Linked DNA regions of Homo sapiens. The protein of the gene in region 1 purifies or fractionates together with the protein of each later gene. This does not show direct contact. Each region holds a gene or a part of one and is shown in the gene's direction. Other genes may lie near its edges. The genes, in order: LGI1, GAK, APAF1, MTR, LRFN3, EDEM3 and DHFR.

Region 1 (2,724 bases):
TGTAGAACTTTCTGCCCCGCACTAGCGCTGTAGTCAGAAGAGGCCTAAAGCCCAGATTTGTTCAGCTGTCTCTGGATTTTCTAGAGCCAAACTCCTGCAAGATCAGAATCTACTGATAAATGTCAAACTCTTCCCCAAAGGATACCAAGCTAGGCCACTGACAGATCCCACATCATTTTCTGTGATTTTCCAAAATAACTTTCAGGAGCAGTGCCCATGGCTGCACCCTTCTTTCGATTTTTTTAAAGATTCCTTTTCCTTCTCTTCACTCCTGCCACCAGTGACCTAAAGCTCCAGAAAAGTGACAAGTGGCATCTCCTTTCTTTGCAGGGGAAAGGCAAATTATTCTAGAGCAGGAAGCAGTTCAGACTTAGAGCAAAACAATTACAGTAGAGCCATGGGCTACCCAGACCACAACGCTAGCCTTTGGTTATCTAAGATCTTAGATAAACCAAATTTGAAGTCCTGGAATAGCTAACTTGTCCCCAGCTTGGGTTAAAAGCATAGAGATGCTGGTAGGCCTGGCTTTGAATCCCCAACTCTGCCTTCTGCTACCAGAACAGCCTCTCTGAGCTTCAGTTTACTCATGTGGAAAAAGGATAATATTTATCTCTTAAGATTGTTGGGAAAATTAATGAGGTAAATTGAGAAAGCACATAATAGATGCTCAGTAAACAGTAGTTTTCATTAGAATTATGATTAACTCATTTGTGTCAGGGAAACTAATGCTTTCTTTCTGCAAGAAGTAAGAGGAGAACACTCGGGCCATAGCTGTGTGTCCTGAACGTCTAGCGCAGGCTAGATATGACATTAACAACTCAATTGTTGGCAACAAGGCCCCACGAGGCACAAAGGCACGGAACTTTAGGACACTGCTGCCATTGGGCTTTGGAGACCAGCCTTGCCTAATCAACCAAGGAGATCTCTTGTTTCAGGCTGATTTGGGTGGAAGTTGTATGGCCCCAGCCCGCATGTTTACATGCTCCAAAAGAGGATGGCCACACAACTAATCTCTCCTTTGTCTTTTCCCAGGCACATCCACTGTAGTATGCAAGCCTATAGTCATTGAAACTCAGCTCTATGTTATTGTGGCCCAGCTGTTTGGTGGCTCTCACATCTATAAGCGAGACAGTTTTGCAAATAAATTCATAAAAATCCAGGATATTGAAATTCTCAAAATCCGAAAACCCAATGACATTGAAACATTCAAGATTGAAAACAACTGGTACTTTGTTGTTGCTGACAGTTCAAAAGCTGGTTTTACTACCATTTACAAATGGAACGGAAACGGATTCTACTCCCATCAATCCTTACACGCGTGGTACAGGGACACTGATGTGGAATATCTAGAAATAGTCAGAACACCTCAGACACTCAGAACGCCTCATTTAATTCTGTCTAGTAGTTCCCAGCGTCCTGTAATTTATCAGTGGAACAAAGCAACACAATTATTCACTAACCAAACTGACATTCCTAACATGGAGGATGTGTACGCAGTGAAGCACTTCTCAGTGAAAGGGGACGTGTACATTTGCTTGACAAGATTCATTGGTGATTCCAAAGTCATGAAATGGGGAGGCTCCTCGTTCCAGGATATTCAGAGGATGCCATCGCGAGGATCCATGGTGTTCCAGCCTCTTCAAATAAATAATTACCAATATGCAATTCTTGGAAGTGATTACTCCTTTACTCAAGTGTATAACTGGGATGCAGAGAAAGCCAAATTTGTGAAATTTCAGGAATTAAATGTTCAGGCACCAAGATCATTCACACATGTGTCCATTAATAAGCGTAATTTTCTTTTTGCTTCCAGTTTTAAGGGAAATACACAGATTTACAAACATGTCATAGTTGACTTAAGCGCATGAGACACCAAATTCTGTGGCTGCCATCAGAAATTTTCTACAGTACATGACCCGGATGAACTCAATGCATGATGACTCTTCTTATCACACTTGCAAATGAATGCCTTTCAAACATTGAGACTGCTAGAACCAAGCACTACCAGTATCTCCATCCTTAACTGTCCAGTCCAGTGATGTGGGAAGTTACCTTTTATAAGACAAAATTTAATTGTGTAACTGTTCTTTGCAGTGAAGATGTGTAAATAAGCGTTTAATGGTATCTGTTACTCCAAAAAGAAATATTAATATGTACTTTTCCATTTATTTATTCATGTGTACAGAAACAACTGCCAAATAAAATGTTTACATTTTCTTTCATATCCCAGAGGTAATTATTTACAGGAGCTGTTTCATTCTTGTTGTTGGTATGTTGAAGAAATAGTTTTATATAATAGTATTGTATTTGGATCAAGGATTTACGATGTGAAGAATGAGTGAAGATAAAATTATGGGTAATATGATATTGATTACCCATTGATTATGACCAGGTTTATCTGTGGCTGGATCAGCTGATTTTGAACATTCAAAGGTATTTCCAAAGGTCATGGCCTTTAGGGATAATTTGAGGTGAAATGGTGACAAATTAAAAGAAAGGTAGAGAAATTTGCCTACTACAAGAAGACTGATTTGAAATTAAGGACAGCAAGACCCATCCTTTCCTGACTGATAAGCCCAGCTAAAATCATCACTCAGACAATTTCTAGGAGAAAGTAAAATCAAGAATTAGGATCTCAATACCCTATTTAGGGTCTTTCTAAACATCTGACAGCTGATAGAGATTGTAACCTTACAGTGCTTGCCTCAAATGTACCTGTCATGA
Region 2 (3,500 bases), on another chromosome or scaffold:
TTCCTCACGGCTCTGCAGGCTGGAAGTCCAGGCGCAAGGCGCCGGCAGATCTGGTGTCTGGTGAGGTCCAGCACCTTCTCGCTGTGTCCTCACAGGGCAGAAGGGGTGAGGGAGTGCTCTCTGGGGCAGTAATCCCAGTCCTGAGGGCTCCACCTTCATGGCCTAGTCACCCCCAAGGAGGCCCCACCTCCTAACACCATCACCTTGGGTATTAGGATTTCACACAGGAATTTTGGAGGGGACACAGATTCATTCTGTAGTGTTGTGAATTATGTGTGTATTGAAAATGTTGGTATGTGGTATTTTACGTTAGAAAAGTGTCTGTTTCTTAAAAGAGGCCGAGTTGATTAAAAAAGATACTCAGATCTGCCTGTAGTGGTCCTGTACTGACCTCACTGTCCCCCGGCACTCTGTCCCGTCCCCAGCGTGCTCCGTGCATCCTACACGCATCCTGGTGAGAGGTGTCCTCAGCCCTTTGCATGGACGCTGGTGGGCTGTGTGGGGGAAGGTTGCCCAGCTCTGCTCATGGGGCCTGCAGGCTGCTCGGGGGCACCAGACTCTAGTGTCCCAAGTCCTCAGAGTGTCCCCTGGGGGTTTGTTTTATTTGGACATTTTGATGGGTTTAAAAAGTGTCAAGCTTTGATTTGTGCCTTTCTGAGTAGCGAGTTTGGTAATGCTTATTTGCTGCTCAGCCTCCCCTTCTGGCATTGCACATTCATATCCTGTGCCTGTTATTTTTTTATTCTTATTTTTTTGAGATAGAGTCTTGTTGTGTTGCCCAGGCTGTAGTACAGGGGTGTGATCTCAGATCCTGGCAACCTCCTCCTGAGAGCAGCCCCCGGGCAGAACTCCACCCCCATGACCCAATCAGATCTCACAGGAGAGCACTCACTATCCTGAGAGCAGCCCCTGGGGGAACTCCACCACCACAACCCAATCAGATCTCACAGGAGAGCACTCACTATCCTGAGAGCAGCCCCCCGGGGGAACTCCACCCCCACGACCCAATCAGATCTCACAGGAGAGCACTCACTATCCTGAGAGCAGCCCCGGGAGGAACTCCACACCCATGGCCCAGTCAGATCTCACTATCCTGAGAGCAGCCACGCCATGGGGAACTCCGCCCCATAATCCGGTCACCTCCCACCAGGCCCCTCCTCCAACATTGAGGGTCACAAGTGAACATGAGATTTGCATGGGGACGCAGATCCAAACCGTATGTGCTGTTATGAATAAAGATCCAAACCGTGTCCGCTGTTATGAATAAAGATCCAAACCGTATCCGCTGTTATGAATAAAGGTGCCGAGAACATTTTTTTTCAAGTCTTTTTGTGGACGTGTGTTTTTCTTTGTCTTGGGTAAAAAATACCAAGGAGTAGGATTGCTGATTTACAGGTTGGATTTAGGTTGAACTTCACATGAAACAACCAAACCTCCTTCCACGGTAGCTGCACCATTTTACATTTCCACCAGCTGCAGTGGAGAGTTCCTGGCTCTCCACTTCCTCACCAGCATTTCTTGTGGTCTCTCATTTTGATTACATCCATTCTTGTGAGTGTGCAGTGGTGTCGATCTCATTGTGATTTCATTGGAATTTCCCTGATGATGATGTTCAGCAATTTTTTTTTTTTTTTTTTTTTGAGAGGGAGTCTTGCCCAGGCTGGAGTGCAGTGGCTCCATCTTGGCTCACGGCAAGCTCCACCTCCCAGGTTCAAACAATTCTCCTGCCTCAGCCTCCCAACTAGCTGGGATTAAAGGCATGCACCACCATGCCCAGCTAATTTTGTATTTTTTAGTAGAAATGGGGTGTCACTATGTTGGTCAGGCTGGTCTCAAACTCCTGACCTCAGGTCACCCGCCGGCCTTGGCCTCCCAAAGTGCTGGGATTACAGGCATGAGCCACGGCGCCTGGCCTTTTTGTCCATTTTTTATTGGGCAGGGAGTTTCTGCTTACTCTGGATACAGGTCTTATGTTTATATATTTATATAATTTATGTGAGAAAGAGAAGGCAAGCCTTAGCTGTGGTCACTCTGCTGTCCCAGGCCAGGCTGCCTCAGGGAACCTGGGCCTTGAGATTTGACCTGGCTTGAGCATTTGATGTCTCTGTGCCTCCACTCCCCACCCCTCCACTCCCTGCCCTTGAGATGAGGTCTTGCTTTGTTGCCCAGGCTGGAGTGCAGTGGCATGATCACAGCTCACCACAGTCTTGAACTCCCGGACTCAAGCGATCCTCCCACCTCAGCCTCCCAGGTAGCTGGGACCACAGGCACGCACCACCACGCCTGGCTAATTTTTAATTTATTTCTGGTAGAGATGGAGTCTTGTTATGTTGCCTGTAGGCTGTTCTCAGAACTCCTGGGCTCAAGTGATTCTCCCACCTCGGCCTCCCAAAGTGCTGGGATTGCAGGTGTCAGCCACTGTGCCTGGCCTGTGCCTGTTCCTTAATTGGCAGAGTGTGTGCTGTAAAATGTATATAACAGGGTCTTGGAGGTACCCGACATGCCATTCTTTAATGTCTTATACGTTACTATTATTTTTAAATAAACTGTATTATTTTGAGTTCATTGTAGGTTCCCACGCGGCTGTGAGAAAAGATGGAGATCTTTTCTATTTTAGACCCTTGCCTGGTTTCCCCAGTGGTGACGGTCGGGATGCTAACCCTGGTGCAGGTGAGGCTGTGGAAGTCTCCATCCCCGTAGGGAGCCCTCATGCCACCTCTCAGCCACGCCATTTCCTTACCCTCTGGAAACCTCTAGTCTTTGCTCTGTCTGTGATTTTGTCATTCGAAGGATGCAGTGTAAGGGGAAGTGCAGAATTCTTCAGGTAATTGTGTGTCAGTAGCTTGTTTCCCGTGGTGAGACTCCTCTGCGTGAGTGTGCACGGCTTGCCCAGCCAGCCACCCGTGGAAGGACATCTGGGCTGTTTCCTGTTTTGGCTACTACAGATAAAGCTGCTGTGACACTTGCGTATAGGTTTTTGTGTGAATATACGTTTTCATTTCTGGGATAAATGTTTAAGAGTGCAGTTGCTGGTTCATGTGTGGTAATTATGTGTTTAGTTTGTTAGAAAACTGCCAGATTGTTTTCTTGAGTGGCCATACATTCCCACCAGCAATGTAGGAGCGTATCAGCCTGGTTAGGCTGCCATAACAAAATACTCCAGACTGAGTGGGGAGCAGTAGAAATTCACTCTCGCAGTTCTGGAGGCTTGAAGGCCAAGAGCAAGATGCTGTCAGTGCTGATTCCAGGAGAGGCCTCTTTTGCTGGTTTGCAGATGCTGCCTTTTTTTTTTTTTTTTTTTTGAGATGGAGTCTCGCTCTGTCACCCAGACTGGAGTGCAGTGGCGCAATCTCAGCTCACTGCAACCTCTGCCTCCTGGGTTCAAGCAGTTCTCTTGCCTCAGTTTCCTGAGTAGCTGGGACTACAGGCGCCCACCACCATGCGCCGCTGATTTTTGTATTTTTAGTAGAGACGGGGTTTCACCATGTTTCCCAGGTTGG
Region 3 (3,500 bases), on another chromosome or scaffold:
GGCACCTGGAGCTGCCTGCCCCGCTGCAGCAGTCAGCACGTCTGTGCGCAGTGGCTGGACCCCACGCTCACTCACACACGCCTCGCTGTTCCACGCCTGACTCGCCCTTGGCAGGCTTGGGACCCAGGCTGGTAGTGTGAGCTGAATGCAGCCTGTCAGGCCAAGTGGGTGAAACAAGACCAGTGGGCCCAAGCAAAACTTGGGCAAAGGCGCCACCGGCCACAGAAGTTTCTGGCCAGAAAATCAACACCCCAAAGATCCTGTAACATTTTCATTGATATTTACAAACATGTAACAGTGAATAGTTCTCTAGTTATGTGAAGGCATACACATTCTGACAGAAATTCTGATTTTGGGAGTAGCTTTGCCAAGGTTCCTTTCTGTTTTGCAAAATGACAATGATTAAACTCACTTAAAGATTTTTATTGAATGATGACCAGTAGTTAAGCAGTTTATTATAAAAAATATTTTATTGTTACTTGTGCAGGTGTTCAAAGCTGAAACAGGAGAGAAACTTCTAGAAATCAAGGCTCATGAGGATGAAGTGCTTTGTTGTGCATTCTCTACAGATGACAGATTTATAGCAACCTGCTCAGTGGATAAAAAAGTGAAGGTAGGAAAATCTTTTCCTCTTGAGTTGTAATCACAACAGAATTCATTTTATTTTTCCATGATCATGAGACCAGAGTAAGTAGAGTTAAAGGACTCTCACCTGTTGATCTACTAACCTGATTCATTGTAAATTAACACTATCTGAAAATTCTTTACTTTTTTTTAAAGAGACAGGATTTTGCTCTGTGACCCAGGCTGGAGGGCAGTGGCATGATCATAGCTCACTGTAAACTCCAATTCCTGGGCTCAAGTGATCCTCCTGCCACAGCCTTCCAAAGTGTTAGGATTATAGGTATGAGCCACTGTGCGTGGCCTGAAAATTCTTTATTTTTAAACACCAGCAAAAATGCCTAGGTTGATCACCTCAGGATTAAACAAGCAGTGGGGAAAAGCAATGACAAATTAGTGAGTTTGTCTTCCATTAATAGACAAGTCCATGGGTTAAATATCAGTTGAAATCTTTGAGTGCATTGTGATTAGGAGTGTTGCTGCACAAACTTGGGGATTCCTGTTGTAAGATACAATTTTAAAATGCAACCCCAATTTTTTTAATTTGCTTATGAACTGGCTTATATATTCAGTGGAAAACCAGGTGGATGAACAAACTAATAATTACGTTACTGGTCTAAAAACATAAATAGAGAAAAGTAAACAGAGTAATTTTTACTTATTTATTTTGAGGCAGAGTCTTGCTCTGACACCCAGACTGGAGTGCAGTGGTACAATCTCGGCTCACTGCAATCTCTGCCTCCAGGATTCAATTGATTCTTATGCCTCAGCCTCTTGAGTAGCTGAGATCACAGGTGTGCACCACCATGCCCAGCTAATTTTTGTAGTTTTGGTAGAGACAGAGTTTTGCCATGTTGGTCAGGCTGGTATTGAACTTCTGGCCTCAAGTGATCCGCCTGCCTTTGACTCCCAAAGTGCTGAGATTATAGGCATGAGCCACTGTGCCCCGCCAGAGAGTAATTTTTATTTTTGTTAAGTATTCTCTTGTTCCTAAATTTGGCTTCTACCAGGAGCATTTATACTAATATAGAATTCAAGAGAAACTGAAGGCTTGTGGGGGTTATCACTGATATATGGAAGACAGACCTTACTTTAACCCTTTTTCAAAGGGGTTAAATCTGGAGTACTGGATGTAGCTAGGTGGAGTGGGCAAGAAATTTGCCTTGGGTGTTTTCCTGAAGTTTTCACCTACTGGAAGAGGGCTATGGAATGTCCAGACTAAATTTGAGACCTTGGAAAAATCTACCTCTTGATAGATTGGACTCGTGGCTTAACCAACAGTTAATTCACTCTGTAGTGTCTACTCTGACTCTGAGTCAGACTTGGAGGTGGCCACTGAGGGCAGTTCTAAAGTCAGAGCTACATGGAGTAAAAGGAAATAATAATGAGTTTCTGTTTTCTAAGCCAGAGGTAGAAATACCTATTAAAGAACTTTAAAATAAGATAAACTCTCTGGACCTCTGGGGATTCTAATCAGTGCTTTGATAACATACAAAGGAAATGCCAAAGGACATTAGTACCTCTAAAAAGTCAAAATCCCAGTGAAGGTTCATTAGGTAATTTATTTCTTTTGTTTGTTGTTATATGGCATAGACTGCTTAGTTGTCTTACATAGTAACTAGAATGATGATTAATTTTTTTGTTTTTTTTTTTTTTTTTTTGAGACGGAGTCTCGCTCTTTCGCCCAGGTTGAACTGCAGTGGCGCTATCTCGGCTCACTGCAAGCTCCGACTCCCGGGTTCATGCCATTCTCCTGCCTCAGCCTCCCGAGTAGCTGGGACTACAGGCGGCCGCCACCGCGCCTGGCTAATTTTTTGTATTTTTAGTAGAGACGGGGTTTCACCATGTTAGCCAGGATGGTGTTGATCTCCTGACCTCGTGATCTGCCCGCCTCGGCCTCCCAAAGTGCTGGGATTACAGGCGTGAGCCACCGCGCCCGGCCTGATGATTACTTTTTACTGAAAACTGAACACTATAAGAGGCTATAAATACTACACACTTTGTCATATTACATTATCAATTTCCTGCTACAGCTTGCAGGGTTAAGTGTCGATCCCGTTTACAGAAGAGGACGCAGATTCAGAGATGAAGTCTCTTGCTCAAGCTTACATTAAACTGGGAACAGTAATAGGGTTGAAAGCTGGGTTTCTCTCAGACTATAAAACCTTTATTTTTTTTAACTAAGCAATCTGCCTTTACTTATTTATATGGTACCTTGAAGTCCATAGAACACTTGTCATGTTCATTATCTCATTTGATATCTTAAATTGTGTGGGAGAGGTATAGATATCCCCATTTTACAGAAGAGGGAACTGAGATGCAGGTAAGTTAGGGATTTGTGACACACAAGTCATAAGTGGTAGAGCCAGCTCTTGGGCTCAACCCTTCTGACCAGAAATCTATTATGCTAACCTCTTTAAAGCACTTCTCTGCCTGCTTTCATTCATATAAACATGTGAAATCTTGCCCTTAAGAAATGTCATGTGTTCATGACACTCTAGTTATGCTATAGGTACATATATGTATATTTGCAAATAATTTTTTTTAAACATTAAGGCAAAATATTGCCATATTTTAGAAAGGGGAGAGGTTTCATTAGCATCTTGTCCAACTAGGAAAATCTGCTATGACAGGATAAGATAGCATTTGCAAAGCAATGGACATTGCTTTGCCCCTCTGTTCTCCCTTTGAAAATAATGGATATTTGTAAATTTTTTCTCTTTTCTCTTTAGATTTGGAATTCTATGACTGGGGAACTAGTACACACCTATGATGAGCACTCAGAGCAAGTCAATTGCTGCCATTTCACCAACAGTAGTCATCATCTTCTCTTAGCCACTGGGTCAAGTGACTGCTTCCTCAAAGTAAGTGTGGATATT
Region 4 (3,500 bases), on another chromosome or scaffold:
ACCTCTGAAGTTAGCCCTGTTCGATCTCTGCTCCTTGTCAGACTACATTAAAGAATCTAGATGTCTTCTACACATTGTCCTTCTCTTCCTCACAGTGTCTGCCTTGATGACCAAATCAAAAATTGTTTTATTGCATTACTGCCTGAGTGTGTGATATTTTAGCAGAATCTGAGCCATGAGCTTCTTAAGTAAAGCCTTCTACTCACTGGTCACAGTCTAGCTTCTCTATGGCTTAAGAGTAAACCTGTTTGATAAAGCTATAAATGGCATTTATTCCTTCCTTCTTGCTGCTTAGAATCTCACTGAGTTTTTCTTCTACTCCAACTGAAGAAGGTGCCACATCTCACCTGTTGGTGGTTCTCACCTGGCTTTATATTAGCATCACTAAGGGGCTTTTACAAAACACTTGCTGAGACCCCATCTCCAGATTCTGATTTAACTGGTTCAGGGTGAGGTGTTACTATTATAAAAAACAAGCAAACAGAAATCCCTCCAGGGTATTGTAATGTGCAACCAGAGTTGAAAGCCCTTCCTGATGGAGTAAAGCTGCCATTCCGTTGTTTTACTGAACTTCTATTCTGGATCTCTGAAATCCACCAGCACGATTGAGGCTTTATTAGTGTGTCTGTCCCACAGCCCTGGTGAGGAGTAAGACAGAAGCTTGGTGAACCTTACGTGATATGAGATATGACCTGCTCCTGACAAAGGCCTGTACACCAATGCCGTGTTCACTCTGAGAGTCATTGTTTAATCAAGTGACAGAGGTTGAGTATCTGTTAATGTGGCACAGATACTGTGCTAGACGCCATGAGAACAATTTGACAAGGGCTTCATCCTTATGGAGGTTAGAGTTGATGACTCTGTTTTGGTTCTAGAAATGAATTCCTGTCCTGTGAGGATGCACCTGCTTGTCCCACAAGCAGGGCTGTCTTTGGTATACAGCTGGGCCCTACACCCTACTCTCCTGTGGGTAACATACTGTTCACTTCAACCTGCCCTGCTTGGCCAGATAATATTCATGGCTCAGATGAGGAATGACCAGGACCTTGACTTCTTCATCTACCAACCAGACTAGGTTACTCAGTAATACTAGTAGCATTGGTCGCCCCTGTGCCTTCTCTCTTAGTGAGCTTAGATGAGCCATGAACCTAGAGCCTAGAACTCTATTGGGCTGTCTGGTGAAGGGTAGACTTTAAAAGTTCAAGCCTAAAGGCAGCTGCAAATGGGCTGTTTCTGACCAGTTTTTTCTGACATACATCTCAGTCTCAACCTTAACCTTTTCACTCTAACTGAAGGCAGAGGAAGTAAGCATTGAGAAAATTCCATTAAGGAAGACGAAAGCTCGCCACCTTCCCTAAAGCCTGGGTGCAGTGAGGCCACAGAGACCACTTCCTGTCTCCCTTTCCCTGGGCCATTTTGTCTGCTAAGTCCTGGAGGCACTTCCCTCCCAAGTAGAGGTGAAGTCTCACCCCACCAGCTGCAGAGAGCGATTAAAGAGACCAAAGAAAACAGTTGAAAAAGAATACCAAAGTAGTAAGTGATCAAAAGGCTAGATCTAAGAGAGAGTTCTTTTCATAATTCCCCTACTCCTCATTTCTGTTGTCTAGGGCCTCACTAGATGCACTTGACCTATGTCCGTGTCCCTACCCCCTCATCTCCACAGAAGTCTGCAATATAGATTGCAGTAGGGTTGGCCATTTTTCAAGAACATTTTTCGCGTTCATTGAGAATTGACCTTCAGAATTGTGACTTATTTTTTCTTATCTCTGGAGTGATAGCAAGTAATCATTTTTTAAGAGTAGATTTGATTTTTCATACAACCAGAAATAATTCAGGATGTAATTTGGTGAATACCCTGTGTTGAGGTTGTAAATTTGATCTGAAGACAGTTTCCATGACAAAGTTCAGAAATACTTTGAGTAAAAGCAGCATTCATACATAATGTTGAGCACCTACTTTGACAGGCACTGCTCAGGGCACTGGGGATAAAGCAAGACTGGCATTCTATCTAGGGGAGAGGAGTTTACCAATTAACAAGTAATAAAACAACGAAAAATACTAAAGATGTTGCCAAAATAATACAATTTCTGGAAAGAAATACTCCGAAGAAGAATGGAGGAGGTGGGGAAGGGTGGAAGTGGCTGGTTTAGAGAGGGTGATTTAAGGTAGGCTCTGAAAAGGGGGCACTTGGGCAGAAGCCTTAGTTCTGTGAAGCACAAAGCCATGTCATGGTATGTTCTGGTAGTGGCAGCAATAAATGAAAGTTGCTGAGGGAGGAACAAGCTTGACGGGTTTCAAAAACACCAAAGGAGCAATGTAGGAGGTGCGGAGTAGAGGAGAGGGCAAATGGTAGGAGATGAGATTGGAGATGGAGGCTGAGATTCTGAGGCTTTTGGGAAGCAGCTGGGGGATGAGCCTTGCCGGAGTTAGTGTTTTGCCTTTTAGGGACATTATTTTGAAGGTAAAGACTAATTTGTATTTATGACTTAAGACACATGTTAGGCCAGTGTTAAAATGGGTGAAGGTGAGGAATAAATGCATATCCTTGAATATGCTTAGAATGTTTTTGCAAGAAGATCTGAGAAAGCAATGGCAGTGTTTCCTGGGTGATAGGTTGTGACACTGCTGTCAGGTCAAGAGAGGAAGGGGCACTTACATGTTAATCTCTTCTTTAGTAGTATTTGATTTTTTATCATATGCATGTATTTTTAGAAGCTTTTTCATAATATACCATATGTGTGTATATGTTTAAGGTTTGATTTTTTGCAGAAAGAGTATAGCTGCTGTGTTTGTGAAAACACAAAGAGATCTTTAAACCAGTCTCTCCTCTGAGATAATTTGATAAGTGATCGGAAGCTGCTTGGCATTTAGATTTCTGTGAAATCCAAGCATTGACACTTGAGTGTTTTCAGTGAGTGAAATGTGCTCTAATGTATAACACTTAATATTTTAATATTAATATTTTATTAAAATAAAATAACAGGTATTTAATATTAATATTTTAATAGATAATTTTTCTATTTCAAACTACATCTTTTGCTCTTTTCCCTAGGCAACAGAAACAGACACAAAAATCAGAGTGTGCACCCGGGCCTACCATCTGCTTGTGAAAAAACTGGGCTTTAATCCAAATGACATTATTTTTGACCCTAATATCCTAACCATTGGGACTGGAATGGAGGAACACAACTTGTATGCCATTAATTTTATCCATGCAACAAAAGTCATTAAAGTAAGTGTAGGCATGTTCTCTCCCAAGTCATGGCTCAAATTTGTCCCATGGGTCTAATGAATGGTTAGAACTAACTTATATATTTATTGGCTGATGAAATGTTAACATTCTTAGTTAGTAAATTGTTTTTCTGAAATGTAGGAGACCTTATTTTTTTTCTTTAGTAGAGTTTTAACTTGTGTAACAAACAGACTGGAGAACATAACAGAGCCTGATGAACTCGCTTGAACCCAGGAGGGTGGAGGTTGCATTGAGCTGGGATCACGCC
Region 5 (3,500 bases), on another chromosome or scaffold:
AAAAAATTAGCTGAGTGTGGTGGCACGCGCCTGTAGTCCCAGCTACTCAGGAGGCTGAGGCAGGAGAATTGCTTGAACCTGGGAGGCGGAGGTTGCAGTGAGCCGAGGCTGTGCCACTGCACTCCAGCCTGGGTGACAGAGTGAGACTCCGTCTCAAAAAAAAAAAAAAAAAGTCACACAAGTCCTGGCCACCTTGCCAGGTGGGGAATGGGATGAATGCTGTCCTAGACAGTCACCCTGCCCCAGGCGGCCACGGAGTTCCCTGTACCTCTCTCATTAGAATAGCCTAGGAATAAAACAGGTGATAAGTCAACTCTCCAACAGGGTGCCCAACTACAAAAGAAACTATAGTGAAATTGGGTGGTAAGGATTAAAAGGAAACAAGAAAGAAAAAGATAAATAGAAACCAGCCAACAGAGATAAAAGAGAAGCAGGTGACAGAGCCGGAAAGAAATAAGGCAACAGGGAGAAAAAGAAAGCAGTAGTGACGGAGGCACATTAGTTTAATGAAAAGGGAATCAGACGACAGGACTCATTGGAAAACAGGCTATCAATACAGTCATCATAATAAGGCAATAGGGCTAGGGGGACATTTATTGGCAGGTTACAAGGAAATCGGGCAACAGGGGTACAGGGAGATCAGGTGGTTTGATTGGAGAGAATCCTAGCTGTACACTAGAGGAAAATCAGGCAGCTGGAAAAGGGAAATTTGGCATAGGCTGCAGGAAATAGGGGAACCAGAGGGAAATTGGCAAGCGTCTGGAGGAGACTGGGAGGTAAAATGTGGGGGAAATTGGATGGGGGTGGCTAGAAGACAAAAGGATTAAATTAGATGGAAATTGGACAGGGTTAGAGCAGAATTGGGTGGTGAACTGGAGAGATGACTGGCAGTGGGACCAGAGTGAAATCAGGCAGAGGATTGGGGCAAAATTGGGCAGGGAGGCTAGAGCGGAGCTGGGCTGCAGGCTGGAGGGAAATTGAGTGGGCAGTGCAAAAGGGAAATTGGGCAGTTGGGTATAAAATGAAACCGGCAAGGTGTGGTGGCTCACGCCTGTAATCCCAACACTTAAGGAGGCCAAGGCAGGAGGCTGGACTGCCTTGAGGCCAGGAGTTTGAGACCAGCCTGGGCAATATAGCAAGAGCCTGTCTCTACAAAAAATTTAAAAATTAGCTGGGCATGGTAGTGCACACCTGTAGTTCCTGCTACTCAGGAGGCTGAGGCCGGAGGATGGCTTGAGTCCAGGAGTCAGAGGCTGCAGTGAGCTGTGATCATGCCACTGCACTCCAGCTTGGGCAACAGAGCAAGACCCTGTCTATAAGAAAACAGAAAGAAAGAAAGAAAAGAAACAGGATGGATTGGAAGAACTCACGTGGTGAGCTGTTAGAGAAATTGGGTGGTGGGACTAGAGTGAAAATGGGCAGCAGGCTATGAGGACGTGTGAGAGGGTGGGCTAGAGTGAAATTGGCCAACAGACTGGAGGGGTATCAGTCAGGTGGCTGAATGGGATGTCAGACCAAAGGGAATTGGGATGTTGGTGAGAGGGAGCTCATTGGGTAGAATGAAATGAAGGAGTGGACTGGTGGGAAGTCTAGCCCCGCAGGGAGTTTGGTGGGGGAAGCACAGGTTGGGGGCTGGGCAGCCTGAGACCTGACCCCCACCTGCCTGCCCTGCAGGATGATCCCGGCGGAGAGCCGCTCGTTCCTGCTGACGGACCTGGCGTCAGGCCGGACCTACGATCTGTGCGTGCTCGCCGTGTATGAGGACAGCGCCACGGGGCTCACGGCCACGCGGCCTGTGGGCTGCGCCCGCTTCTCCACCGAACCTGCGCTGCGGCCATGCGGGGCGCCGCACGCTCCCTTCCTGGGCGGCACGATGATCATCGCGCTGGGCGGCGTCATCGTAGCCTCGGTACTGGTCTTCATCTTCGTGCTGCTAATGCGCTACAAGGTGCACGGCGGCCAGCCCCCCGGCAAGGCCAAGATTCCCGCGCCTGTTAGCAGCGTTTGCTCCCAGACCAACGGCGCCCTGGGCCCCACGCCCACGCCCGCCCCGCCCGCCCCGGAGCCCGCGGCGCTCAGGGCCCACACCGTGGTCCAGCTGGACTGCGAGCCCTGGGGGCCCGGCCACGAACCTGTGGGACCCTAGCCAGGCGCCCCCCCCTCTAAGGGTCCTCTGGCCCCACGGACAGCAGGACCCGGACACCCTGTGGGACCTGGCCTCAAACTCACCAAATCGCTCATGGTTTTTAAAACTCTGATGGGGAGGGTGTCGGGGACACCGGGGCAAAACAAGAAAGTCCTATTTTTCCAAGCTTGGGCGAAGACCCTTGCCCTCGTCTCTGTCTATGGGGGTTGGGGGACGGAGCAGGGGTCTGGAGCTGGGGAATGCCTCCTTTGGGGAGACACCCCCTCCCCGCCCAGTTCAGTCTGAGGACCCCGGAGGAGGCTGAGGATGGCGATCCATTCAGACAATAGATGTTCCCTGCGTGTCGGCTCTGAGCATGCCCTGGGTTGGGGGATGCTGTGGTGATCCAGATAGCCCTGAGCCCTGCCCGCAGGGGCCTAAAGTCAAATGGGAGACAGACACATCCCCAGACAGTGATAGCACAGAGTGACCAGGGATGTGGGGATGAGGGAAGCCTGGGGGATTGTGACAGTCCAGAAGAGGTACCCTTGCTCAGCCCCAGGTGTGGTCAGGGAGGGCTTCCTGGAGGAGGACACATGTGATCTGAGAATGACATATGAAGGAGATAACTGGGCAAAGAGCAGAAGGAAAGCTCTTTCAGGCAGAGGGCACAGCACAAGCAAGGTGGTGGTGTGCCCTGGGCACTGGGGGTGCTATGGTAGAGGTGAGGCAGGAGGGTTGAGCAGGGTCTAGGACCTCCAGGCTGAGGAGCTCAGACTCTGGCCTGATGATACCAGGGAGCCATGGAGGGTTGTATGCAAGGGAGGAATGGGGTCAGTTTGGGGCTTCAGGAAGATCCTTCTAGTGCTATGAGTAGGGTGGACCCAAGGGGAAGACTGAAGCTGGGAGCCCCAGGGGAAGCTGGGGCAGGGACCTGGGTGGGTGAGGACGAAGTTGGACCAGCTGGGCTAGGGAACAAGAAAAGGGAGTGGGTTGACAGAGACACTCGGGAAACTGTGGGAAGCTGAGGCGGTGGGTTATGGAGCTGCGGGGCCATGGGGTGGGGCAGGAAGATGGTGGGGACTGCCCTCATATAGGACCAGGGAGGAGGAGCAGGTTTGGGAAAGATGATATGGCCAGTGGGGAACTTGGTAGGTGTAGGGGGCCCTGAGGATGTCCAGGATGTGGCATTCAGGAGGGTGCAGGACCCCTGGTCTGAGGCTGAAGCTGGAAATAGAAATGAGGGCTTTGTCAGCAGAGATGGGAACTGACGCTGCTGGGGTTAAGACGGCTTCTTGTGGGGGATGATTCCAAGTCCCCACTATGGGACATTTTTTCTTTTTTCTTTTTTTTTTTTACAGATGGGGTCTCACTA
Region 6 (3,500 bases), on another chromosome or scaffold:
ATCGCTTGAACCTGGAGGCGAAGGTTGCAGCGAGCAGAGATCGTGCCATTGCACTCCAGCCCGGGCAACAAGAGCAAAACTCTGTCTCAAAAAAAGAGAAAAAGCCGACTTACAGAAATTACTGAAGAGTGGTGTAATTTTTGAACTGGGTCTGATTTCCAATACATTTTAATCCAGTTTTTGAATAGATAAAACATTATGGAAATTTTTTTTTCTGTTCAGTATAGTAATTATTATACCATTCTGTATTTAAATGTGACTTTGTTAGGCTTCTATGTGTAAGAGCAATGATATTAAATAGCTCCACTTTGAAATATGTGTTCTAAAATTTGCTCATCATATGCTGCATAAATGTAAGGATTGGAAAATAGTGTATTCTCCTTGTATGCAATCATGATTTACTTACAGTCTTGAAAATTGAATGCTTGTAAAGTTGAGTTAGCAAGTTAAAGCTTATGTCATTTGTAATATACATGTCTAGGCACTACCATTGCCAATTATAGGAATTTCTACTTCTTGGTAATAATCTCGTATTCCATTTCAGGGAAGGAAAAAAAAGAGGACTTCCATCTTCCATTCATTGATATGAGTTCCTGAAAGGGACATTTTAAACTTTTTTTTTTCTGCTTAGGACAGGATAAGAGTCTAGAGCTGTAAACCACAAATATAAAAATTATATATATATAAACATATATATATATGTAAACTTACAAAGAATTAGTGCTTTAGCAAAGTGGTGGTAAGGTCTTTTTTTAAATAATGAAATGTTTTTAAGTGGTTATTATTCATATGTTGTCAGGACTTAATTCGTTCACAAGTTTGAGTGTACTTGATTTTGTTGGTGTTCATAGTCAGGATCTGGAACTGAGGTCTTTTCTGTTTGCTAGCTCTATTATTACCAGTATTTCATAATCTGTGATTATAGTTTTAAAAATGACAATTGCAGTATAACAGGAGGCAAATAAAAATATAGTCAGCAATTTCTTTAACACTTTTTTCAATTCTTGCCATCAGTGATTGGAACTTTGGTAAAAGAAAAGTTAATAGGCCGGGCGTGGTAACTCACACCTGTAATCCCAGCACTTTGGGAGGCTGAGGCGGGTGGATCACATGAGGTCAGGAGTTCGAGACCAGCCTGGCCAACGTGGTAAAACCCTGTCTCTACTGAAAATGCAAAAATTAGCCAGGCATGGTGGCAGACGCCTGTAATCCCAGCTACTCGGGAGGCTGAGGCAGGAGAATCGCTTGAACCTGGGAGGTGAAGGTTGCAGTGAGCTGAGATCGTGCCACTGCACTCTAGCCTAGGTGTGACAGAGTGAGACCCTGTCTCAAAAAAAAAAGAAAAAGTTAATAAAAAATTGTTAAGCTGTGTTTTCCTTTGCTAATTATTTGGCCTTGTCTGGTCATACAATTAACTTGTACTTTTTCCTGTAGTCCTCAAGTCCCTGAACTTGAGAGTGCTTAATTGAAAGGCTGCTTCCTCAGTCGCAACCTTACAGGTTTTGATTTAGTAAAATTCTGGTGTAGTGATCAGACATCTCCATTTTAAACAGTGGTTACGGAGATTTTGTGAAACAGAATTCGCCAAAACACACAACTCTCTTTTTGAGCATTAGTTTTCTCATTTTGGAAGTGAATACTATTTATTTGATTTTTGACAGTTTTTTTAGAGTAGAGCACATCATAAAAAGTATCTTTTGAAAATATGACAAACATTAATAAATATGTACTTAAACTAGGCATTAGTGGTTTATTCAATGTAAGTGCAAAGGCAGAGGCTTCATAAAGCGTTGTTATTTCATGTCACTACACACCTGTGTACCTCTCTCTTAGTAGAACATATAGGGGAAGCAATAAATGGCAATAATAATGGTTTTTTTAAAGGGCTGTCCAGCAAAACCCCCGCTTCAAGACAGATACGTTAAATAATTGTGTTAAGAGGTCATTGTTTTTCTGCATCAGATTTCCTTCTCTGATGATGGCATCTATCATTCATCAGTTTTCTTAGGAAAAATTATAAGATGAATTGTACATAAATTACTAGTAATCATTAAAGTTTGGCTCAGCTCTGTGTGGTGAGTTCATGAAAGCTTGTCTGCTAGCTGTTGTAGTTTCTGATTCTGTTTATGTCCCTTTCTACCTAAATTTTTCTTTTGTTTTTATTGGTATATTTTTTATGAGGAAGAATTAACTTTTTGAAAGATAATAAATAGAATATACTTACCTTTTTTTTTTTTTTTTTCCATTTCTGCTCTTTTAAAATTAGGAATCAAGTACTGGAAATGTTTGATCATGCTTATGGTAACTATATGGTAAGTAGGAAGCTTATCTTTACCTACCATTTATGTGAGTTGATTATTATGTGAGCACAGTCAACTGGGAATTTTGAAACCTACAATACAATTACATTTTTTAAAAGGAAGTTTTTAAAAAACAGGGCAAAAATAGTCTTTCTGGTAGTGGTTTTTAGGGAACCAGTTTATTGAACAGATAAGAATAAATTGAAATTAGATTATGAAACTTCATTATTTAAACAGCTTCCTTGGGTGCCATCAACAATTATCATTGAGTGCTTTATATAGCTAGATATTGTGGATATATACATGAAGATGTTATCTCTGGTCTTAAGGGAGATTATTCTCTTAATTTAAAAAAATGTTTACAATATTTATACACTGAAGAAAACCATTGCTTAAAAGAGAAATTGTTACTTAGCCTCTGTCCTAATTGTATCCTCATGGACTCTGCACTGAATATATTTTGCTTTTTAGTTTGCTGATTCATATTATTTAAAAATGTTTTAGGGCTCACTTAAGATTAAATAGCAGTTTCAGTTTTACAAGATGAAAAGTTCTGGAGATCTGTTGTGCAACAACGTAGATGAAATAGCAAATTCTGGAATTCAAAAAAAATTTTGCACATAAATTGTAATTTGAAAAGAGTTTAAGCATATTATCCTGAAACTTATCCCTTATAACCTTGTTTTTACATTTTAAAATATGTCAGCAGATTTTCTTCTATGATTACAACGTATAAAATGTAGTTGGGAAAGTTTGGCAGAGGACTAGCTTTAGTTCTGCTTAAAATATTTTTCAACTGATTCTGTGAATCCATTTTTTATCATATATTAACCAAATATCTTCATACACTAACATCATTGTTATCTATGAACATCTAAATATATGTAATTTATGCATTTTTAGTTTTAAAACATGTTTTATATTTGACAGTCCTCGTTCTCTTTTATATTGTAAATTTGGAGAGAGCACATTTTGAGTTCTTAATGTTTTTAGGATATGATTTTTTTTGGATACATTTCAACATTAAAAACACAGTTTCAAATTTATTTCTCAAGACCTCAGTCATTCCCTTAATGTTTTTTTTGTTTTTTGTTTTTTGTTTTTTTTTTTGAGACGGAGTTGTGCTCTGTCGCCCAGGCTGTGGAGTATAGCGGCACTATCTCAGCTCACTGCAGCCACCACCTCCCAGGTTCAAGTGAT
Region 7 (3,500 bases), on another chromosome or scaffold:
TTCACATGGTGGCAGGAAGGAGAAGTGCCGAGCAAAGGGGGAAAGGCCCCTTATAAAACCATCAGATCTCATGAGAACTTAACTATCACGAGAACATCATGGGGGGTACCACCCCCCATAATTCATTTATCTCCACCTGGTATCACCCTTGACATGTGGGGATTATTACAATTCAAGGTGAGATTTTGGCGGAGACACAGCCAAACCATATCAGGATCTAAGGGGAAGGTCTGGGATCTGGCATGTTAATCATTCTTAGTCTAATAATATAATCACCAAAAAGAATGCAGTATCCTAGGGCACTACTTTCTTGGGAACAGTAGTCATAGTATTCTTTTCCCATGTGTATTGGTGAAGATTCAACCAAAGAAGCAGAACCAGTAGTAGATAGATACAGGTATATTAAAGAGTTTTATTGCGAGGAATTGGCTTACACAATTATGGGGGCTGGGTACGTGAGTCCAAAAATCTGTAAAACGGGCCATCAGAAAGGACAAGCTGGAATTCTCCAGCAGGGGCTGAAGTGGTACAGGTGAAATTTCTTCAGGAAAGCCTCAACTCTACTCTTAAAGCCTTTAAACTGATTGATTCAGCCCACTCAGATTAAAGTCTGACCGGGCACAGTGGCTAACCCCTGCAATCCCAGCACTTTGGAAGGCCAAGGCAGGTGGATCACTTGAGCTCAGGAGTTTGAGACCAACCGTGCAACATAATGAAACCCCGTCTCTACAAACAAATTAGCCAGGCGTGGTGGCATGTACCTGTAGTTTCCAGGAGGCAGAGGTTGCAGTGAGCCAAGATAGTACCACTGCGCTCCAGCCTAGGCAACAGAGTGAGATCCTGTCTCAAAAAAATTTAAAAAAAAAACTGAATTGTAATCACATCTACAAAATGCCTTCAAAGCAACACCTAGATACAGTATCTGAATAACCAAGGACTATATCCTAGTCAAGTTTAACACTATGGGAAGGAAAGAACTACACAGCTATATAGGCTAAGGGGATTCAGGCTTACATAGATTTTCTCCCAAGTTCTTCCTAGAATGGCATAGGTAAAAACCGAGAAGAAAGTGTATAGAATATTTGCATTGATTGCCTCTGGGCGACGGGGCAGATTTGTTGATGTGCATCTTGCTGCCTGCTTCCATCTTCATGCTGTTCTTTCTTCTGGTTGCTAGGATGCTCTGATTATCTCTTTCCTTGGTAGATTTCAAATTCACAGACTATATCGCCATTCCAAGAAACTCTTTAATGATATTTTTGAATACTACTCAAGTTTGTTTATGGCTAGCTTAAGCTCAAACAGAAAGAAATCTCAGTGGGGGAGATGTTCACTTGAGCCAGCATTTCTCCTCGAATATGATGAGTGTAATTTTTTTTTACGACCTTCCTGTGATGCATGTAATTGGGTTTGGTTGCTTCTTCTGTATTTATATATAACATATGTTGGTGTCTTGTGCTTTTTTTTTTAAGGCTGAGAAAATTTAAAGTCTTTGTTATCAAGCATGCCAGGGAAATAGTGATACCAGTTAGTAAAAAATGTTAGAGCTCTTTTTTGTTGTTGTTCTTCCTTCCACTTCCTTACTTGTTGGTCAGTCCCACACATATAGTGAACAGCTGCTGAGTGCCAGGCACTGCAGGGTCCTGAATAAGAGGGCAGAGATTTATACATGGAAATCACTTGCTTATGCCAACTCTAAAGATACTTCATTTTTCACCCCTCTCCCCCAATGTAAGAAGAAACTGAATCCTCAAAGTGATCACAAAATTTTCTACCAAACACTATAGTAATTTAGGGTAAATATTTCTTAAGTAAGGTATTGAGGGAAAATGCTTTTCCAAAGTTGTCTAGACAGTCAAGTTGTGGCTTTAAAAGAACTTGAGGTGAGAAGGGTGGGAATGGCCACTGATGAGTACAGAATGTTTTCTTTTTTGGTGTGATGGAACTGTTCTAAAAGTAGATAGGAGTGATGCTTGCTCGACTCTGAATCTACTAAACGTCACTGAACTATACACTTTAAAAGGGTAAATGTTATGGTGTGTGATTTATATCAATAAAGTGGCTTTTAAAAGTCTTTGGAACCAGCCGGGCACAGTGGCTCACATCTGTAATCCCAGCACTTTGGGAGGCCGAGGTGGGCAGATCACGAGGTCAGGTGTTCGAGACCAGCCTGGCCAACATAGCAAAACCCCGTCTCTACTGAAAATACAAAAATTAGCCAGGCGTGGTGGCAAGCACCTGTAATCCCAGCTACTCGGGAAGCTGAGGCAGGAGAAGCTCTTGAACCAGGAGGCAGAAGTTGCAGTGAGCCAAGACTATACCACTGCACTCCAGCCTGGGCAACAGAGCAAGACTCCGTCTCAAAAAAAAAAAAAAAACCTCGTTGGAACCAAAAATTAAATAAACAAGTTTTACTGTAATGCTATAGTAGCCTGGACACCATCTTTAGAAAATCCAAAATTGCCTCCATTATGTAAGATTTAAATAGTCTCCCATCCACGAAAGTTAACTTAATTTCATGTTATAATTTTTTACGATCTCACTATCAGAATCTCCACAGTGATTAAAACTTCTTGAAGGTGCAGTTCTCTCTCCCCCTACCACTCACACACTTGGAGTAGCAAACACTGACCTGGTTTCTGATGTCTACTATGGCACCTAATAACTTTGTGACTTTAGGCAGGTTACAAGTAAGCCTTGTTGAACCTCTTTCCTTACCTATTAAATGAGATGAATAATGACAACTTTTTTGGGTGATTTTGAAGACTCACTGAAATTTTGTATGTAAAGTTTCTGGCACACAGAAGGGTATAGATATCAGTTCCTACCCCCACCCCCATAAACTTGCTACTTTATATCTTATAGAACATACACATTAATATTAATATTAATGAAATCACAGTGAACAGACTCATGATCTCATTTTCACCTTAACATATTACTTTGTTCTTGTTTCCCTCCATCTTGAGACAAAAATCCACTGCCACCTAAATCAACTCTCTCATCTCCCCTGACTTGATTCTGGATTCCTTTTTTTCTATCTTCACCTTGCTCTGCTGTCCCAACCTTTTAGTATTATCAAAGGCAAAATAAAAATTTTGCGATGAATTCTCTAAATTTAACATTGTGTTTGGGAAGAAAAAATTGCAGTTTAGGGCATACATGCAGACAAGTGACCTTCCATATGTCTGAAGAACAAAGGGAAGGTTAGAGGTTTTATTTAAAAGGAGAAATGTTACTGCTCTTTGAGAAAGTTCATTGGCACTACTAAGGTTTGGGGGAGCTAGCAAGCTCCGACTGGCGAGCAGTGAGTGGTGGGCAAAATCAGTTCTAGAGTTGCAGCAAGTTATCTCAGAAGCTATAGATAAAACTGGTTTCAGGTTACAACAAGCAGTTCCAGCAGTCAGGCTTACAGAGAATTACATTCTTGGAGCAATGTTTTATACCCTGAGTGCTTTTTTCCCCTGGCCCCTCAACTCTGATTTAGTTGGGTATGACAA

Evidence for each region.
Region 2: the proteins of LGI1 (region 1) and GAK purify together in Homo sapiens (affinity purification with mass spectrometry; one large-scale study listed by BioGRID and IntAct). This does not show direct contact.
Region 3: the proteins of LGI1 (region 1) and APAF1 purify together in Homo sapiens (affinity purification with mass spectrometry; one large-scale study listed by BioGRID and IntAct). This does not show direct contact.
Region 4: the proteins of LGI1 (region 1) and MTR purify together in Homo sapiens (affinity purification with mass spectrometry; one large-scale study listed by BioGRID and IntAct). This does not show direct contact.
Region 5: the proteins of LGI1 (region 1) and LRFN3 purify together in Homo sapiens (affinity purification with mass spectrometry; one large-scale study listed by BioGRID and IntAct). This does not show direct contact.
Region 6: the proteins of LGI1 (region 1) and EDEM3 purify together in Homo sapiens (affinity purification with mass spectrometry; one large-scale study listed by BioGRID and IntAct). This does not show direct contact.
Region 7: the proteins of LGI1 (region 1) and DHFR purify together in Homo sapiens (affinity purification with mass spectrometry; one large-scale study listed by BioGRID and IntAct). This does not show direct contact.

Annotation. Positions count from the first base shown.
Region 1 is NC_000010.11:93,795,936-93,798,659, forward strand, and holds the end of LGI1 (leucine-rich glioma-inactivated protein 1 isoform 1 precursor), read left to right. Parts: exon of another isoform or gene 1-1,032; coding exon 1,033-1,868; 3' UTR 1,869-2,224; downstream 2,225-2,724. UniProt on the Homo sapiens protein: Regulates voltage-gated potassium channels assembled from KCNA1, KCNA4 and KCNAB1. It slows down channel inactivation by precluding channel closure mediated by the KCNAB1 subunit.
Region 2 is NC_000004.12:922,317-925,816, reverse strand, and holds part of GAK (cyclin-G-associated kinase), read left to right. Parts: intron 1-3,500. UniProt on the Homo sapiens protein: Associates with cyclin G and CDK5. Seems to act as an auxilin homolog that is involved in the uncoating of clathrin-coated vesicles by Hsc70 in non-neuronal cells. Expression oscillates slightly during the cell cycle, peaking at G1.
Region 3 is NC_000012.12:98,679,790-98,683,289, forward strand, and holds part of APAF1 (apoptotic protease-activating factor 1), read left to right. Parts: intron 1-487; coding exon 488-613; intron 614-3,353; coding exon 3,354-3,485; intron 3,486-3,500. UniProt on the Homo sapiens protein: Oligomeric Apaf-1 mediates the cytochrome c-dependent autocatalytic activation of pro-caspase-9 (Apaf-3), leading to the activation of caspase-3 and apoptosis. This activation requires ATP. Isoform 6 is less effective in inducing apoptosis.
Region 4 is NC_000001.11:236,847,292-236,850,791, forward strand, and holds part of MTR (methionine synthase), read left to right. Parts: intron 1-3,052; coding exon 3,053-3,232; intron 3,233-3,500. UniProt on the Homo sapiens protein: Catalyzes the transfer of a methyl group from methylcob(III)alamin (MeCbl) to homocysteine, yielding enzyme-bound cob(I)alamin and methionine in the cytosol. MeCbl is an active form of cobalamin (vitamin B12) used as a cofactor for methionine biosynthesis.
Region 5 is NC_000019.10:35,942,874-35,946,373, forward strand, and holds part of LRFN3 (leucine-rich repeat and fibronectin type-III domain-containing protein 3 precursor), read left to right. Parts: intron 1-1,674; coding exon 1,675-2,146; 3' UTR 2,147-3,500. UniProt on the Homo sapiens protein: Cell adhesion molecule that mediates homophilic cell-cell adhesion in a Ca(2+)-independent manner. Promotes neurite outgrowth in hippocampal neurons.
Region 6 is NC_000001.11:184,748,359-184,751,858, reverse strand, and holds part of EDEM3 (ER degradation-enhancing alpha-mannosidase-like protein 3 isoform 2 precursor), read left to right. Parts: intron 1-2,266; coding exon 2,267-2,312; intron 2,313-3,500. UniProt on the Homo sapiens protein: Involved in endoplasmic reticulum-associated degradation (ERAD). Accelerates the glycoprotein ERAD by proteasomes, by catalyzing mannose trimming from Man8GlcNAc2 to Man7GlcNAc2 in the N-glycans.
Region 7 is NC_000005.10:80,644,984-80,648,483, reverse strand, and holds part of DHFR (dihydrofolate reductase), read left to right. Parts: intron 1-3,500.